Regions from separate parts of the Homo sapiens genome. Here region 1 is reported to be linked to region 2. Evidence: microRNA targets listed by miRTarBase, many of them from high-throughput screens and not tested one by one. Region 2 holds a microRNA gene; the other region holds the end of a gene's coding sequence.

The links. Region 2 holds the annotated microRNA hsa-miR-5699-3p (UCCUGUCUUUCCUUGUUGGAGC, at 2,175-2,196, opposite strand). A microRNA usually pairs through its seed, bases 2 to 8, with sites in the 3' UTR of a target mRNA and lowers its output. Matches are read on the target gene's strand: a 7mer-m8 pairs with bases 2 to 8, a 7mer-A1 pairs with bases 2 to 7 and ends in A, and an 8mer does both.
Region 1: miRTarBase lists TRA2B as a target of hsa-miR-5699-3p. The part of its 3' UTR that is shown has no 7-base or 8-base seed match.

Annotation. Positions count from the first base shown.
Region 1 is chr3:185,914,824-185,917,897 of GRCh38, reverse strand. TRA2B (transformer 2 beta homolog) reads left to right here. Exons shown (of 9, transcript NM_004593.3): 9 at 173-3,074. The coding sequence ends at 183. Among named protein-coding and RNA genes, the nearest start is that of TRA2B, 22 kb to the left of the region's middle.
Region 2 is chr10:639,525-642,685 of GRCh38, forward strand. MIR5699 (microRNA 5699) reads right to left here and starts at 2,254; the gene lies at 2,165-2,254. All of the region lies in intron 1 of DIP2C (disco interacting protein 2 homolog C), which reads right to left. It overlaps LOC124902361, which reads right to left. Exons shown (of 1, transcript XM_047426106.1): 1 at 1-3,161. RefSeq lists an enhancer at 198-1,104.

The DNA.
Region 1 (3,074 bases), not on the chromosome of region 2:
TATCTCATTTCTGGTGTAATACTTACATGGAAGTCTTTCTCTATTTGGGGGTGGTGGGGTTCTGGCACATAGGAATTTCTTAATGGCAGAATATTCTGAAATTCTCGGCATTAAAGTATACTTGATAATTAGTTCACTTAATATTAAAGCATGTTCATTCTTTTCTTCCCAGGTCGCTATTAAAGCATGAAGACTTTCTGAAACCTGCCCTAGAGCTGGGATATTGTTTGTGGGCAATATTTTTTATTGTCTCTTGTTTAAAAAGTGAACAGTGCCTAGTGAAGTTAGGTGACTTTTACACCTTTTACGATGACTACTTTTGGTGGAGTTGAAATGCTGTTTTCATTCTGCATTTGTGTAGTTTGGTGCTTTGTTCCAAGTTAAGTGTTTTCAGAAAAGTATGTTTTGCATGTATTTTTTTACAGTCTAAATTTTGACTGCTGAGAAGTTTCTATTGTACAAAACTTCATTTAAAAGGTTTTTCTACTGAATCCAGGGTATTCTGAAGATCGAAGCCTGTGTAAAATGCTACCAAATGGCAAAAAGCAACAATAAACAGTTTGATTTTTACTTTTCTTTCTAACATATCAATGCTTAGCAGAACTATTCAGATTGTCAGTAGTAAATTTAAAGACAAATGCCCGTTTTCCTCCAGTCCATGAAACATACCATACTTATATACCTGCAACTAAGTGTTTAAAATTATGCTCTGTAACTCTGTACTGCTAGTATTAGAACTAAAAATCTTAAAATACAGCCAGTGCTTAATGCTTATATCAATGTGGATTTGTCGGCTTTTATGTAATCTGTAATATGTATAGCAGGAAATACGAAGAGTTACACAGTGTATGCCTTAAAAGGCTGTTTCTTAAAGGTGTTACAAGGGGATAATGGTATTTCAACTAGTTATCAGCAAGTGACAATACATTCCACCACAAATACACTCTTGTTCTTCTAGCTTTTAGACTATATGAAAAAACCGGGTGCTTCAAAGTACATGATAAGGGAACACTATACCTGTCATGGATGAACTGAAGACTTTGCCTGTTCATTTTTTAAATATTATTTTCAGGTCCTTTGCTTACCAAAGGAGGCCCAATTTCACTCAAATGTTTTGAGAACTGTGTTTAAATAAACGCAAATGAAAAGAAAAATGTTGGTGCAGCTGTTCACAAAGAAGTGTTCTTGTTCTATTATAATTAGAGTTCTTCTGTAGTTTAATCGTTAGGGCAGTGTGTTCCTTGGGCTGAGGTGTATCTTTGCTATTTTGGGCTGGGTTGAGGGGGGGATGAATTTCTGTATTCCTGGAAAATTCAGAGTGCATAACTAGGTATTAGAGTGATCTCCATTTGGGGATGGAGTTACAGTAAATAACTAGACTGCGGGTACTTTAATACATGTTCTTATTATTTTGCATTTAAGTAATTTTCATGACCAATTGTAGGGATGTTGCTACAGGTGGGTTATTTTGTTGCCTTGCTAACCTTTATCGCATCTAGGTATTAGTATGTTTCAGGTACTTTGGGAAGAACTTTACATATAATCTTTAGCAATGAAATGATGTAGAGTAACTTACCTTAGTTCAAATAGCTGTTTAAGTGGCAATGCCACGATCTGAATTGAACCTAGGTGATCTTAGTCCACAGTTCTCTTGATCATGATGTCTCAAATCTGGGTACCTGGGTGATGGAAAATACCAGTAATGGAGCATAGGCAGTATTGGCAGGTCTTAATTTGTAAAACTTACTGTCCAGGGTGTTTTCAGTGTTTGCCAACTTGTGGTAAATTAATATGCTTAGAGAACTACCCTTAGGTTTGTTTCTGATAAGCATGTGGAAACAACTTAGTATATGCCTGATGGGTTATTTCAAATTGTTCTCAATGAGTTTTGAAACAAGAATTTGTAGTATTTATATATAAAGTTGAGTTTTAGGGTGTGGTCCCAGAGGGGGTTGTGTTATGGATGGATACATTAAAGGCTGAGAAACCTGGTTTTATCGTGGTAGTATATACAGGCATCCTTTCCTGAAGTAACTACATTCTCCACCATTTTCTCCCCAACCAAACCTCTCCCCATCAGTTAACTGATGGCTTGCGAGTTCACACTCCTGATAATCTCGAACATAACCCTCGGTTTCTATCCTAAAGCCTGAGTTTTAGCCCTTTAGTTGTGTAGCCATCCTTTATCCTGCTGATTGAAAGTTTCCTTTTTTAGGCTAGTTTGAGTTGTTTTCTGGCTTTTAGATTTGAAAGAATTTTAGCCATTTGACATGGCTACAAAGAGTGTTAACAGGCAAAAGACTGAGGAAAATTTGGAATTTTACCAAGTTGAGATAGACTGAGAAGTAGTGAGACAAAGTGGTAGTCTTTTGATGTGCTGTAATGCTAGTCGCCAGTTTCATGAAAGGGAGGCAGCAGTTACCCGTAGGTAACCCCTAGGTAACTGCTGCCATGGGCAGCTGAATCAGACAAAAGCCATGGGAAAGGATAAATTTGAGTCTTAAAGTTACTGCCTCAAGGCAAAGGGACTTGGAGGCTTTTATATGCCAATACAAACAATCCATTTCTTATAGCTGTAGGGCTGAGACTACTAAAACCAAATGTAAAGTTCATTTGGAAGATTGCTAAGTTAAATAGTTTTATACTAGGCTTTTGTGAAACTTCTCAGGAAATCAACAGGGTCCCAGCAAGTGGAAATAAGGCTGTGTCAAAAGATTTGTAGACCTGGGAGCAGGGGTTTCCGATCTCCTGGCCATGGATTGCCTGAGCTCCGCCGCCTGTCAGATCAGCAACAGCAGATTTTCATAGCAGGAATCCTATTGTGAAGTGCGCTTGAGAGGGATCTAGCTTGCACATTTCCTTATGGAAATCTAACTACATGTTAGAGAATGCTCAAGGTCTGCAATGTTTACATTGTTGCCCCTACATAAGGAATATATGCCTTAAGATAAAACTAATAGCTCTTAGCCCTCTTACACCATTGACTAGGATTCCAATTCTGCAAGGCCCAGGAGGAGAAATTGAGAATTAGAAGTTTCACCGAGAAGAAATAAAAAGATTTGGTTTGCATTATC
Region 2 (3,161 bases):
CGCATATGCACATTCTCCACTGAAGCCACTGCATGAAGCCACGCTGGAAGCACTTTCTGGCAGGTTTAGGAAGCTCACGTCCAAGGTCATTAAACGCATGGCAAGCTCGCCTTGGAGGCATTTTACTTTGCTAATGACAACGAAGCATTCTCATTGCACTGAATAGTTTAGAGCAGTCTTTCATGTCCACTGCCTCTTTGAAATAGGCATATTGTGCCTGTTTTACAGATTACATCAAGGCCCTAATATATTTAGTTCCTTGTCCCAGGTACACACAAATCAGCGACATCACTAGAACGTGTTTTGGACCACGAAAAGAAGGAAAATCACAGCATTATCCATTGATGCTGCTTAAAGCGTATTTCCAGATGTCCCTCCCCCGCCCGGCCTGTATCCAAGGCTTCCGCTGACCACGCGGCATCTGCTGGGCACTCTGCGCGCTTTCTCCCACACCCGCCACGCCTGTGGGCCTGTGCATGTCCCTCCACGCATCCCCACGCGGCTAAATCTCCCACACCCGCCACGCATGTGGGCCTGTGCATGTCCCTCCACGCATCTCCACGCGGCTAAATCTCCCATACCCGCCACGCCTGTGGGCCTGTGCCTGTCCCTCCACGCATCCGCACCTACCACGCGGCTAACACACACCTCCCACAGGTGGCAAGTGCCTGAACGTCCCCACGGCTGGCGGGGCTCCCGGTGCAGGACACACAGACAGGCACGGCCGCCCCGCCCACGGCCACCAAGGGCTTTGCTTTGTCCCCAGAGGTGCCCTTCGATGGGGTCACACGGCAGATGGCCAAGTGTTAGATAATTAAGGCTCAGGAAATCACCGCAGCCTTACCTTTAGAACTCACCTCTCCCCTGCACTTCAACCCGAAGGGTGGGTCGCCAGAGCTGGGGAAGAGATGCCCAAGGCTCCCTTGCGCCCTGACAGCCTCGGACTCTGCTCCCCTCTGTTGGTTTCTTACTGCACCTCAATAAACTTAGCTCACAGCAAGAGGCGGGCATGGCCAGAGTAGAAACACACGACAGACCCCGGGTAGACGCGACGGGGGACGAGGGTGCGTGCCGGGACGAGGGTGCGCGCGGGGAAGAAGCTGCGCGCGGGGATGAGGGTGCGCGCGGGGAAGAGGGTGCGCGCGGGGATGAGGGTGCGCGCGGGGAAGAGGCTGCGCGCGGGGAAGAGGCTGCGCGCGGGGAAGAGGGTGGGCGCCGGGAAGAGGGTGGGCGCCGGGAAGAGGGTGGGCGCCGGGAAGAGGGTGCGCAGGCTCCGAGAACCTGGGGGCAGCAAGGCCGGTCAAGGCTGGAGACTCCAACAGTGGCAGCAGCAAGGGTGTTGGCCAAGCCACAGAGACAGCCCCACCCAGAGGGGCTGCATGAACCAGCAGCGACCCTAACCCAACGTGCTCATCGGACTGGGCACACGCACACGCTGTGGACACGTGTGAATATGTTCCAATTAACGTGATGCTACGTAATAATCAACAACGTTAACCCCATGGCTTCATTACATGGCATCTGGCACATTGAGACTTTTTATTCTGTCTCTCTTCCTATACAAAGAAGTGGAAAATAGGTCCAAGATCATTCACAACAAATTATTGCTAATTGCAAAAAAAAAAAAATCCTACCCTCACCTTGGAAGATCTCAAGGCAACACCTCGTTCTTTGAGGTCATAGTGGGGACGCTCTCCGGACCCCTAGGTGAGTCTGTGACTGAGGGGAATCCCCAAATGGGCAGTTTTGGGGCCAGCACGGACGCCAGCCATGCATCCAGGCAGGTCTTGTGACCTCGGCTGGGTCACCAACCTATTCCTGCACTCAGACCCCGCCAGGAACGAGGGCACCGGCCCGCACATCTCTGCTCCCGAGGCTACATCCCCTACGTTCCTCTGCACTGCTGGGTTCCATGCCTTAGATCCCAGGCACCTTAAAGCTGATGTTCCCCCACCAGCCCTCATGAAGATGATACTCACACAACGCCCCTCCTCTCCCACCTGGTCAGTACCCAGGGAGAAAGGAACCCGGGTGTCAGCTTGATTTTCTGCCAGTACATTGAAAAAACAGCTGGCCAGCAGCACTGGTGCACAGCACTGCCAGGCTACCCATGAGGAAAGCTAAGTAAAGTCAGATGTACTCAAGTCGGCTGCGGCAAGTGCTTCTACATCCCTGCTCCAACAAGGAAAGACAGGAGGCCAGGCGTGTGTGTGGCTCACACCTCTTGTCCTTCCTTGTTGGGGCAGGGGTACAGAAGCATTTTGGGGGGCTGAGGCAGAAGAAATGCTGGAATTCGAGACCAGCCTGGGCAACATAGCAAGACCCCATCTCTACAAAAAAAAATACAAAAATGAGCCAGGTGTGGTAGCGCGCCTGTAGTCCCAGCTACTCAGGGGGCTGAGGTGGGAGGATCACCTGAGCCCAGGAGGCAGAGGTTGCAGGGAGCCAAGATTGCACCACTGCACTCCAGCCTGGGCAACAGGGCGAGACCCTGTATCAAAAAAAGGAAAGAAAGAAAGAAATACAGGAGACCACTAATAATTCCAAATAGTGCCTACTAATTTGAAATCTTTTCCAGATATGATGAAGGAAATTATTTTCCTTCCTACACCCCTTCTAAGGAAACATTTCTATTTTTCTGCTACACAATTTGGTAACCTGCCCTTTCAGATCCTGGCCTCTTTAAGCAGGACTCGCTGGTGTGCTAGCAAAGCAGTGCTCTGAAACCTCAGCATCCTCAGACCCACCTGGAGGGCAGGTGAAGGATGCTGGGCCTCCGCCTCCTAACGTCACACTGGGGTGGGGCAGGTCTGGGGTGGGGCAGGGTTTGCACTTCGAATGCATTCCAGTCTAGGGCCACATCGCCCTAAACACGCCCATCTCATCTAATGCATGCCAGAGGGAGGAGCCACACGGGGCAGGTCACAGAGCAAGTGTCCAGGCACCAGGCCACCAGGTGTCTATTTAAATGCAAACCAATCAAGCAGCTTAAGTCAAACAGCTTCACCCTCCTAACACATTGGCCAACACAACTAGTGATAAATATCACTGCTGTTAGACCTTCTGCTCACTGATGACCAGAGCAAGGGCCTGAAACATCAAAGCTGAAGGGCGTGTGCCACGGTCAGGGCTCCGCACACCCCCGTCCCAGGCCATCGCAC